Homo sapiens: one gene and its partner. The protein of the gene in region 1 purifies or fractionates together with the protein of each later gene. This does not show direct contact. Each region holds a gene or a part of one and is shown on either strand. Other genes may lie near its edges.

What was found. Proteins that work in one complex are often made in the same cells at the same time.
Region 2: the proteins of ANKS3 (region 1) and NEK8 purify together in Homo sapiens (affinity purification with mass spectrometry; 2 studies listed by BioGRID and IntAct, with this or other methods). This does not show direct contact.

Annotation. Positions count from the first base shown.
Region 1 is NC_000016.10:4,724,269-4,731,298, forward strand, and holds part of ANKS3 (ankyrin repeat and SAM domain-containing protein 3), read right to left. Parts: intron 5,884-7,030; coding exon of another isoform or gene 5,882-5,883; coding exon 5,712-5,881; intron 2,910-5,711; coding exon 2,711-2,909; intron 2,587-2,710; exon of another isoform or gene 2,513-2,586; coding exon 2,391-2,512; intron 564-2,390; coding exon 482-563; intron 1-481. UniProt on the Homo sapiens protein: May be involved in vasopressin signaling in the kidney.
Region 2 is NC_000017.11:28,738,758-28,743,955, forward strand, and holds the end of NEK8 (serine/threonine-protein kinase Nek8), read left to right. Parts: intron 1-326; coding exon 327-444; intron 445-1,705; coding exon 1,706-1,856; intron 1,857-2,064; coding exon 2,065-2,228; intron 2,229-2,320; coding exon 2,321-2,479; intron 2,480-2,655; coding exon 2,656-2,814; intron 2,815-3,201; coding exon 3,202-3,230; 3' UTR 3,231-4,698; downstream 4,699-5,198. UniProt on the Homo sapiens protein: Required for renal tubular integrity. May regulate local cytoskeletal structure in kidney tubule epithelial cells. May regulate ciliary biogenesis through targeting of proteins to the cilia.

The sequences.
Region 1 (7,030 bases):
TCTCTAAGTTACAGACTATACGTAGAATCCCACTTTGTTCAAAACACAAAGCAATGTGCACACACTTGCCTACAGACACATCTTTCCACAGCAGAGGAAAAGTCCTAGGGCAGCTCTTTCTCAAACCAAGTGGGCATCAGGGAGGTTGAAAAAGAGAGGAGGATCTCTGCCTTCTTATTCTATATAATTTTTCTAAGTGACAGGATTATGAGTGCTATTTACTTTTAAAATATTTTTCCATAATTTTCAGATAGTATTTTCAAAATTATTACAGGAATAGGTGTCTATTTCTACTCACCACTGTATCCTTAATGCCTAAGCACCACTCAACACCGGGCGTCAATAGATAATGAAAATGTGTTGAATAAATGAATGAAAGTTATTTCTGTGCAAAGGAAAATTCTGTAATAGCTTATACTTCAGTAATATGATTCCTCATTTGCCGTGACTACATTACATGCTAATAATCAGGGTCACTTACGTGATTCAGAAAATACTGCACGATTATCTCATGGCCAGCAGCAGCTGCTTCCATCAAGGGAGTAAATCCACATATCGGCTCCCTGCAAGATGTGGGCCACAGTCAGATGATTGGAAGAGACAAGTTCCGCCAGGCAAAAACTCCCTGCTGAAGATAAACCCTGAGCAGTGCACGAGTCACCGATCCCTAAGCGTAGAACACTGTCCCTTTCCAGAATTAACAGGTGACATGAGAACAGTGAATATAACACATCAGCTCCATTTACTCTTCTGGTGTCTGTCCCCAGGGCTGGTCTTTGTCCTAAAGACAGATGTCTGCCTGTCGTCCCACCTGTTGGCTATTCCCACTGGCTACCTCTGAAATCTCCACCTCAATCATATTCAAAAAGCTGTTCTAATTCCTCACAGAAAGCCAGCATCTCCCATCCATTCATCCAAATCCTGGCTTCAAGTTCAACGTCCTCCATGAACCCACTCTGAAAAGTTCAAGTACTAATGATCTAAGCTATCTTTGCCACGCTTAGCTCCTGAAGCTTGCTTTTCATGCTTGGTTATGCTAACTCGGCACTGTCTTCAGAGGGCTTCCAAATCCCTCCTTGTCTCATGCTGGTTTGGAAGTCAGGAACCATGCATGGGAAATGCTGGTTTTCATCCATCTTAAGACACACAGTGTTCATATTTTAACATCTCTCAAGTCAGAAAACATCTTTAAATCAACAGGCGAGTTGAATGTTAATTAGTAGCATATTTTTTCTTTCTTAGTGGCATACAAAATTATCAGGTGTCTTAGAATGAATGACAGCCAGGGTGGGTGCTGCATTGGTACCCGCTGCGTTTGTTCAAAGGTGATTATTATCATGACAAGCTTTAGACAACAATCCCACTTCCAACTTATAAAACTCATGACTGGTTTTTTGTTTGTTTTTGAGACAGAGTTTTGCTCTTGTTGCTCAGGCTGGAGTGCAGTGGCACGATCTCTCAGTTCACTGCAACCTCTGCCTTCTGGTTTCAAGTGATTCTCCCGCCTCAGACTCCCGAGTAGCTGGGATTACAGGCACCTGCCACCACGCCCAGCTAATTTTTGTATTTTTAGTAGAGACGGGGTTTCACCATGTTGGCCAGACTGGTCTCGAACTCCTGACCTCATGATCTGCCCGCCTTGGCCTCCCAGAGTGCTAGGATTACAGGTGTGAGCCACTGAGCCCGGCCAAAACTCATGACTGTTGTTTTTGTTTTTTTTTTTTTGAGATGGAGTCTTGCTCTGTCACCCAGGCTGGAGTGCAGTGGTGCAATCTCGGCTCACTGCAAGCTCCACCTCCCGGGTTCACACCATTCTCTTGCCTCAGCCTCCCGAGTAGCTGGGACTACAGGCGCCCGTCACCATGCCCAGCTAATTTTTTCGTATTTTTAGTAGAGATGGGGTTTCACCATGTTAGCCAGGATGGTCTCGATCTCCTGACCTCGTGATCTGCCTACCTCGGCCTCCCAAAGAGCTGGGATCACAGGCGTGAGCCACCACGCCCGGCCTCATGACTGTTTCAAAGCATCACCTCACCTCATCCATACAAAAAGCAAGAAAATGGAAGGAATTTGCATGTAATGTATGACATTTAAATGCCATTCAGTATGTTAGGCCCCTGGCATACAATAAAACATGTAATTCTTACAACTGTATGACCCAGGTGGGTTTCAGATAAAGAAAAGGAAGCTGAGAGGGCTTGAAGAGATGCATCTCACAGATGTACGAAAAGGCCTGTGCCTGGAAGGACTCTGGTCCTACCCCTCATCTTGAGCCTCTCGTGCCGAAGCAGGGTGGCCCTAAACTCTGGTTAGCTGCCTCCAGAGCCACCCTCCTTAGAGTCAGATGACACCTAGGCCACTCCTGTGGCCACTAAAGATGTGGCAATCACCTCACGTTGGCATTGGCTCCACTGTCCAAGAGGAACCTGACCATGTGCTGGTGCCCGGCGCTGGTACAGTGGAAGAGGGCTGTCCAGCCCTGGATGTCTTTCATTTCTAGCTCTGCACCTTGCTTCAAGAGAACACAGAACGTGCGTTACGGCCTCATCTCCTCTGCGTGGGGCGGGCGCCCTCCAGGCGGCCATGCTGCAAGAATCAGAAGTGATTACACGAGCACACACGAACACCGTGGCCTGCAGTGGTTCGCATCTCTGTCAGGGTGGCCACGGAGCCCCTCAGGTTTCTGGGCCTGAGTTCCCTCGTAGCTCACCTGGAGAAGAAAGTAGGCGATGCTCTCGTTGCCACAGCTGGAGGCCAGCATCAGTGGAGTCTGCCCTTCTGGGGTCGGCACATTCACACTCACCCCCGCCTCAAGCAGCAGGTGCACGATTGTGTCGTGGCCAATGTAGGAGGCATACATCAGCGGGGTCCAGCCACCACCATTCTTCTTATTCAAATCTAACTCTCTCCTAAACAAACGCAAGATATGCTAGACATGGCCAGCCGCCTCGCATGTGGGGTTCACCAAAGCTGGTGGCGAGGCTAGGCCAGGCGGGATGAGTTGACAGGAAGCAGAAGTTATCTGCCACCCTGGACGTTGTGGGGATTGGAGGCAGGCAGGCAGAAAAATGCTGACAGTTGCTCGTACACTGCCTTGTGAGGCCCTGAGCCTTCGTCTCCTTGCTCTGATTTCGCATCCTCCTAGCCCAAGGCCAGCTATGCTCTTTCACACCACCAGATAGGCAGATGGCACTCAACCAGGGAATATGTGGCAATGTGTGAAGGCATTTTTGGTTCTCACAACTGGGCAGGGAAGGGCTGCTGGAGGCCAAGGCTGCCGCTAAACATCCCACAGTGTCCAGGACAGCCCCCACAGCAAAGAATGATCCAGCCTGGATTGTCAACACAGCCACAGTTGAAAAACCCTGACCACCACAGGCCTGGCATCTACTAGCCCACTGCTGGGTGGAGAGGAGCAGTGAGGAAAGAAGGGACTCCACCGTGGACAAGTCCCACCGCCACTGATTCATCCTTTGTCACCTCACCTTAAAGAAACATTCTTGAAAAATCTGTGACCAAAGAATCCCATCTTTCTCACTGATTGCTGTTAAAATTCTGGCAATGCATTTTCCCATGGGAAAAAACTGTGGGCTTCCTAGCTGCGACTCTGGGGTTGGGACAAGGGAGTCACATTTAAAATAATACCCACTTGCATGGTTACCTGGGATCCTACATGGTTAACGCCCACAGGCCTTCTTTCCCTTCCCCAGTTCTTGCCTGCAGAGGGGATAACAACTGGTGACTGAACCCCAGGATCTGTCCCTTTTACGGGATTCACTTTTTTGTTGTTTTTTTGAGACAGAGTCTCGCTCTGTCGCCCAGGCTGGAGTGCAGTGGCGCGATCTCGGCTCACTGCAAGCTCCGCCTCCCAAGTTCACGCCATTCTCCTGCCTCAGCCTCCCAAGTAGCTGGGACTACAGGCGCCCGCCACTACGCCCAGCTAGTTTTTTGTATTTTTAGTAGAGATGGGGTTTCACCGTGTTAGCCAGGATGGTCTCGATCTCCTGACCTCGTGATCCACCCGCCTTAGCCTCCCAAAGTGCTGGATTACAGGCGTGAGCCACCGCGCCCAGCCGGGATTCACATATTAGACCACAGCAGGCAACTACCTTCCATTGCCTGGCAGCCCTCAGTGACTCTGGGATGCACACCTGGGCAGCCATTCCAGAAGGTCCTGATACCAGGGTTCAGTGGCAGCCCCTGGCCAGGGGGGCTGCATGGAGATGCCTCTGCAGCAGGGCTCGAATGCACCCAGCTCGTCCTAACACTATCTTCCTTTACACAACAGCAGAGCATCTCCCTGGGGCTCTCTTACCACTCCTCGTTCAGCCCCACCCCTTCCTTCTGATGCCCCCAGCTCCCCTCAGGCCCCATCCTGTGCTTACTATCAGCAAGCCTCCACCTCAGCTAGTGTCAAAATCCCATCACAACACAAACGCCTCCCCCTGCTCCTCTATGGAGCGGTTATGGACTCTGCATCTTAACAGGACACCCAAAGACTTAAGAGCCTGAGAATTCCAAACGTGACCCTTTGAGGGGCCGTACTGACTGCATACCCAGCTGCCTATGCCTAGAGCCTCCTGTGGAGGGAGCGCAACAGACCACCCTGTACCAAGGTGCACCAGCACTCCATGGGCTGGGTATGTCTAAGTGAGGGCCACAACTTGGGAACCGGAGACCTGGGGCTTCAGCAATGCTTTGCTTTGGCTCACTGGGAACTGGAAGAGGCACGCAGAGAGAGGAAGAGAGGTCGCTGCACCACAATATCAAATGAGAACCAGGAGACAGAGTTAGGCTGTGTGTGGAACATAAGGGGGTGGAAGTGAGGAGACGACCCTTTTCCAAAAACAAGATGATCACATCCTACTATGGGCAAGACGCAGCCATGGACCCTGCCAGGGGCTTTATATTGTCTCTAACTATTGTACACAGATTAGCAAAGGGCAGGTGGGCAGTGACGTCGGGAGGTCATTCCCCAGAGGCACTGAAAGCCCAGCCTCTCTCCTCCTCCATGGCAGAAGCTAGAGGGGAACAGGGATCACAGGGATCGAATGAACCCTCCGGGAAAAGAAGGCCAGGGATCACTTTCTTTTTTCTTTTTTTTGTTTTTGAGACAGAGTCTCACTCTGTTGCCCAGGCTAGAGTGCAGTGGCGCAATCTCAGCTCACTGTAACCTCCACCTCCCGGGTTCAAGCGATTCTCCTGCCTCAGCCTCCTGAGTAGCTGGGATTACAGGTACATGCCACCACACCCAGCTAACTTTTATATTTTTAGTAGAGATGGGGTTTCATCATGTTATCCAGAATGGTCTCAAACTCCTGACCTCAAGTGACCCGCCCATCTCAGCCTCCCAAAGTGCTGGAATTACAAGTGTGAGCCACCGCACCAGGCCATCACTTTCTGTCTTTATTTTTATTTTGCTTGTTTGTTTGGGCATTTCTGCAATTAGTGAATAAAATTAGTCTGGTTAAAGAATGACTGTTTATAAGCTTCTGATCAAAGTTTACTCCCTCTTTTTCTTCCTAGGAATAAAAACGGCCTCTTTGTCAGGGCTCAGCATCAATACTTACTGACAGCTGCCTGAGATAAGCAGGTTAACCTATTCTACACGCATTAAACATCCACAACTGTGTGCAAAGCCCCATCACGTGGGATCGAAGCCATCACTGCGCTGCTCAAAATGTGAGAGGAAGTTCCCCGAGATCTCTTACCGCTGCACACACTCCTTCACCACTTCATACTGGCCAATGGAAGCAGCTGTGTGAAGATCCAGGGGGACATCCAGCTCCTCCCCGCTGACCTGTGTCCCGAGCCCGTGCCACATGGACAAGCTGCGGTTCAGGAGTTCCGGCTCGCTGGCTTCATCGCTGAGCTCGGACATCACTGAGGAGGAAGGCCCAAGGGTTAGATCTTTCCTGGCTGGTTGTTCCAGGGCATGAAACAGGCTGGTCCTGCCCCTGCTACACCACTGCACTAGCAGACTGATAACCCAGTGCAGTCAACCCCGGGAGTAACTCAGACAAATTTATTTGCTGAAATAATGTATGCTTTGGGCAGTCCCAACCATGCTAAATCTGGTGAGCCTGCTATCACACCAGTAAAGAGGAGCACATATGGTGAGGCATTAACTGTGGAGTACCTGCTCCTCCTTCCAACCGCAGGCACCAGGTAAAAGAGAATTCTCCACCAACTCTAGGAACCTGACAACCTCTTGGATGGGCAGTGAAGAAATGCTAATTGGGTTGTTTAACCCAATCAGTTCCTTGATGTGGTGGGGAAGAACCCTGGATTTGGGGTTTGATCAAAATTCAGCTTGGACCCGGTGCGGTGGCTCACACCTGTAATCCCAGCACTTTGGGAGGCCAAGGTGGGCAGATCACTTGAGGTCAAGAGTTCAAGACCAGCCTGGCCAACATGGTGAAATCCTGTCTCTACTAAAAATACAAAAATTAGCTGGGCATGAAGGCCAGCTACTCGGGAGGCTGAGGTAGGAGCATCACTTGAACTGAGGAGGCGGAGGTTGCGGTGAGCCAAGATCACGCCATTGCACTCCAGCCTGGGAAACAGAGCAAGACTTTGTCTCCAAAAACAAAACAAAAAAAAAAAACAACAAAAAAGCAGCTCTGCTACTTAGCAACTCCAATCCCTAGTGCCTCACTGTCTAACGGGGACATATCTAAAAAGGCTGCTATTATGATACATAAAAGAATGGATAAACAAACGGTGGCACATCCATATAATGGATGCTACTCAGCATTAAACACAAGGATCCAACAGTTGACATGCAACACGTGAATGAATTTCAAATGATTTACGCTAAATGGAAGAAGCCTGCCTACAGTATAATTTCACTTACATGACATTCTGGAAAAGGCAAAATTAAAGGGTTGGAGGTTGGGGCAGAGAGGGAATTTGGGGGACGATAGACCTGTATGACTGTGACGGTGGATCTGTGACTCCATGCCTTTATGAAACCACAGAACTGAACACCAAAATGAATTTTACTGTATGTAAATTTTATTTATTTTTT
Region 2 (5,198 bases), on another chromosome or scaffold:
CATATACCTTGGGAAGGGGAAGTCGGGGGATGGCGGGGAGCCCACATCTGTGAGTTGACACCAGATTGGGGGCAGGGGAGTTCCCAGCAACCACAGGTTCCTCTAGCTTCCCAGCTGCACCTGCTCTGGGCCACCTACATCGGGGAAAGTACAGAAAAACCAGGCTTCCCCAATGGTTGCCCACCTGGCAGTGTGTATGGCTGGATTTAAAGACACAGCCACCTCCTGAGAATGTGTAGCCTCCAGCTTTGTCCCTACAGGGGGTGTTGAAGCCAGATGGCTCCAGACCCTTTGCCCAGTTTCTCCTTGCTTCCTCTCCTCTCTAGCCCACCATTGTGGAGGCTTTGCTGGGCTATGAAATGGTGCAGGTGGCCTGTGGGGCCTCTCACGTGCTGGCCCTGTCCACTGAGCGAGAACTATTTGCCTGGGGCCGTGGAGACAGCGGTAAGCTCCAGCCTTTAGGCCCCATCTCACAGCATCCTCAGCCATGACTTGCTCCCCTTCATACCCACCTTCCACCTCACAGCACATTCTCTCTTCCCTCTTTTCTCTCAAATTCTCTTCATTCATTCAACAAACCTTTATTTTACACCGACTATGTGCACACCCTGTGCTGGGTGCTGAGATGAGATGGAGATGTGGCTTCCTTCAGGTGTTTATGAGGTAATGAAGGAAATTTCATTCATCCACCTAGTTTTTTATTTTATTTTGAGATGGAGTCTCGCTCTGTTACCCAGGCTAGAGTGCAGTGGCGTGATCTCAGCTCACTGCAACCTCCACCACCGGGTTCAAGCGAATCTCCTGCCTCAGCCTCCCAAGTAGCTGGCATTACAGGCACCCGCCACCGCGCCCAGCAAATTTTTGTATTTTTAGTAGAGACAGGGTTTCACCATCTTGGCCAGGCTGGTCTCGAACTCCTGACCTCGTGATCCACATGCCTCAGCCTCCCAAAGTGCTGGGATTACAGGCGTGAGCCACCACGCCTGGCCCATCCACTAATTTTTTTTATTGAGGTCCTCTTTGGGTCAGGCATCAGGCTGGCCACTGAAACTAGAGATGACACTGATGGGTTCTTGTCTTCCTGGAGGACTCAGTCTAGTGGGAGAAAGATGACATTGCCAGCATGCCAGAGAACAGATAGCATCAGGGCTACACCCCAGTGCAGAGGCGTGGAATTCAGTGAACAGTAATGTCAACTGGAGGAGAGAGATGTCATTTGAACAGGGCTTTAAAGGAGGAGGATTTTGAGCCGGCGTGGTGGCTCACGCCTGTAATCCCAGCACTTTGGGAGGCCGAGGCAGGTGGATCACAAGGTCAGGAGTTCAAGACCAGCCTGGCCAACATGGTAAAACCCCGTCTCTACTAAAAATAAAAAAATTAGCTGGGCATGGTGGTGCATGCCTGTAATCCCGGCTACTCAGGAGGCTGAGGCAGGAGAATCGCTTGAACCCAGGAGGCAGAGGTTGCAGTGAGTGAAGATCATACCCTTGTACTCCAGCCTTGGCGACAGAGTGAGACTCAGTCTCGAAAAATAAAAATAAAAAATAAAGAAGGAGGATTTTAACCAGCAGAGGGGCCTAGGAAAGGCATTTGGGACTGAGAGAACAGAGAACTCATGCTGTTCCCTCCCCTCAGTGGGCCCTCCTCATTCGGGCATCACCCCCACTAAAGCTCAAATTAACTCCTTCTGGGTTTCTTCTTGTAGGCAGACTGGGGCTAGGCACCAGGGAGTCCCACAGCTGCCCCCAGCAGGTGCCCATGCCCCCAGGACAGGAAGCTCAGCGAGTTGTATGTGGTATCGATTCCTCCATGATCCTCACTGTGCCTGGCCAAGCCCTAGCCTGTGGGAGCAACAGGTGAATAGATCATCAGGATGACTAACCTGCCCCTGGCTCTCCTTGGCTGCAAGTGCTCCGTCCATCATTGCCTACCTTTCACCAAAGACCAGAATTGAGGGGGTTGAGGGTGCTATTGGTTCAACCCAGGGTGGGATCTGTCTCCTGGTGCACCAGCTCCTGCCCAAACTGTCTGTCAGTTGGATTTGGCTTCTGGCTCTGCCCTCAGGTTCAACAAGCTGGGCCTGGACCACCTCTCCCTGGGGGAGGAGCCTGTCCCCCACCAGCAAGTGGAGGAGGCCCTGAGCTTCACACTACTAGGCTCTGCACCCCTGGACCAGGAGCCTCTGCTGAGTATAGACCTGGGCACTGCTCACTCAGCTGCTGTGACTGGTGAGGAGGACTTGGGCTCTGGAGGTCAGAGGGGGACTCACGGTCTCCTTGGTACCCTGTTGAAGCACCCCTTTCCTTCCTCTCCCCCATAGCCTCGGGTGATTGCTACACTTTTGGCAGCAATCAGCACGGACAGTTGGGCACCAATACTCGCCGAGGCAGTCGGGCACCCTGTAAGGTCCAAGGCCTTGAGGGCATCAAGATGGCAATGGTAGCCTGTGGGGATGCCTTCACTGTAGCTATTGGGGCAGGTGAGGACTGAGCATGGTGGGGGCAGACAGTGCCATGAGCAGTGGGGGGTGGGGGTTGCTATTCAGGGCCACTGGACTCTGGAGCCTCCCAGGGGCCATCCTGGCAATGTGGGAGGGGAGATCCTGCTCGGGCTGTGCCCACTTCCCACTTCCCTCCTGGGGATTCTTCCTGGCAGAGAGCGAAGTGTACTCTTGGGGCAAAGGGGCGCGAGGTCGATTGGGAAGGAGGGATGAGGATGCCGGACTCCCTCGGCCAGTGCAGTTGGATGAGACACACCCTTACACGGTGACTTCCGTGTCCTGTTGCCATGGAAACACCCTCCTGGCTGTTCGATGTGAGTTGTAACTTTTCCCACTTCACCACACAGCCCAGCTGGCCCCTGTCCACACTCCCATCCCCAGTGTTCACAGATGGCCACATCACCAAAAGCATCTTTAGCCCCCAGATAAAAAAAGCAGAAGCTGCGGTTGAAAAGCTTCAAGCTTCCTGCCTGGGGTGGCCAAGGCTGGTGCTTCTTGGGCCTCATGGAAGGGCTGCCTCCACTGCTCCCCAGGGCTCACATGCATTCTTTCTCCTACTGCTGAGTCCCGTTGATGCTGAAACTCTCTTTCTGGCCTAACAGGGTCCAGAATCCAGGGCCCAGTGGGAGTGGGAGGTGGGTGATGATTTCTGGAGGCACTGCCCTCAGAAGCTGCAAGGGTTTCTCTTCGGTACCCTCCAGCGGTCACAGATGAGCCGGTCCCCCCCTGAGGCACCCGGATTCACCTCTGGACCACCCTGATATTGCTTCTCCTCTGAATGCTCTGAAAAGTGCAGGTGCCCAAGGCATGACTTGCAGCTGTCTCCTGGATTGTGTCATCATGGGGTATCAGGGCTGGCAAAACCCCTGCTCTGCTTTTGGCCTTGGATATGGAAACCTCAACCACTTTGTTCTCCTACCACCTCTTTGCCCTTCCTACCCCTTCCTCCCTTCAGTCAGTGTCCCCAGGGTCCAGCCTGGCTAGAGTTAGAAGGCAGACCTAGCCTTTGGAAGCAGGGTGGCCTCCAGAGCCTTGCCATAAAAAGGCTGAAGGCAGCCGGGCGCAGTGGCTCACGCCTGTAATCCCAGCACTTTGGGAGGCTGAGGCGGGCGGATCACGAGGTCAGGAGATCGAGACCATCCTGGCTAACGTGGTGAAACCCCATCTCTACTAAAAATACAAAAAAATTAGCTGGGCGTGGTGGCACGCGCCTGTAGTCCCAGCTGCTCAGGAGGCTGAGGCAGGAGAATGGCGTAAACCCCTCCAGCCTGGGCGACAGAACCAGACTCCGTCTCAAAAAAAAAAAAAAAACAAAAAAGGCTGAAGGCAGCTGTAGCTCCACACAGACCCTACCCTTTCCCCTAGCCCAGTTAGAAAATAAGTCTGGGCCGGCGGCGGTGGCTCACACCTGCATAGGCAGTGCTTTGGCCAGGAGGATCCCTTGATCCCTTGTGGCCAGGAGTTGGGAGACCAGCCTGGGGACCATAGCGAGACCGCTGTCTCCACCAAAAAAAAAAAAAAAGAAGAAAATAAGGCTGGGTGCGGTGGCTCACGCCTGTAATTCCAGCACTTTGGGAGGCCAAGGCGGGCGGATCACTTGAGGTCAGTAGACTGAGGCCAGCCTGGCCAACATGGTGAAACCCCGTCTCTACTAAAAATACAAAAATTAACCAGGCATGGTGACGGGCGCCTGTAATCCCAGCTACTCTGGAGGCTAAGGCAAGAGAATCCCTTGAACCCGGGAGGTGAAGTTTGCAGTGAGCCGAGATCGCACCACTGCACTCCAGCCTGGATGACAGAGCAAGTCTCCCTCTCAAAAAAAAAAAAAAAAAAAAAAAAAAAAAAGTATTTGGTGCTTACCGGGACTCTATCTCCATACTTTGGAGCAGGGCAAGCCAGGGCCTGCCTGGACTGGCCATTAGGCCTGCCTAGCTTCTGCATAGCCCGGGGCTGGGCGGTCCCCGGGAGTGCTGCCACCTCCCCTACACTTTCATCCTGAGGCAGGATTTGCTAGACGTCGGCTTGCCTCTCTTCCCCAGCAGGAGGGCAGGAGTCACTAAGTGCTGCAGAAAAGATCCGCGCTGGAGATTGCCCGTCCCCCCCATGCCTTTCCCCAGAAACAGTTGAGAGAATGGGTAGCTGGTGGGACCAGACCGGTTTCCCAGAGGACAGGAAGGCCAATAAAAATATCAGCTGCCTGCCTGGAGTGTGGTGTCTTCAAGGGTGGGGGTGGCGACCAGGCACCCCAGGACTGGGCTGGGCCCGACCTCGGTGGCAGGGCTGCGGCCAAGGGAGGAATGTGGGCGCAGCCGGAGGCTGGGGCCGAGGTTCCTCTGGCCCAGCGCCCAGTCCAGCCTCCCCGCCCCAGCTGGGCTCCCCGGAGCTGGTTGCCAGGCTTCGGCTGCCTAGCACCTGGAAGCTGGGGCCACGGTTCCTGGGCTGCTCACGGCCCCGGAGGCCGAGCTGTTGCCTCTGGAGAAGAAAACCTTTGTGGCGCGGCCCGTCCCCTTTTCCGACCCGCACTTCCCCGGGGCCCGCGGGCTCTGGGGAGAAGCGGAGCCACGATCTCTGTCCCCCAGGGGAAAGAAAAGCCCATGATCCCGTGGGTGGGCGAGACTGGCGGTCACCAGACCCAAAAACCATGCACTCGGGGGTGGGCGGGGCCGCGAGGGCGCGCATTAGGACCGCGCGGCCGCGG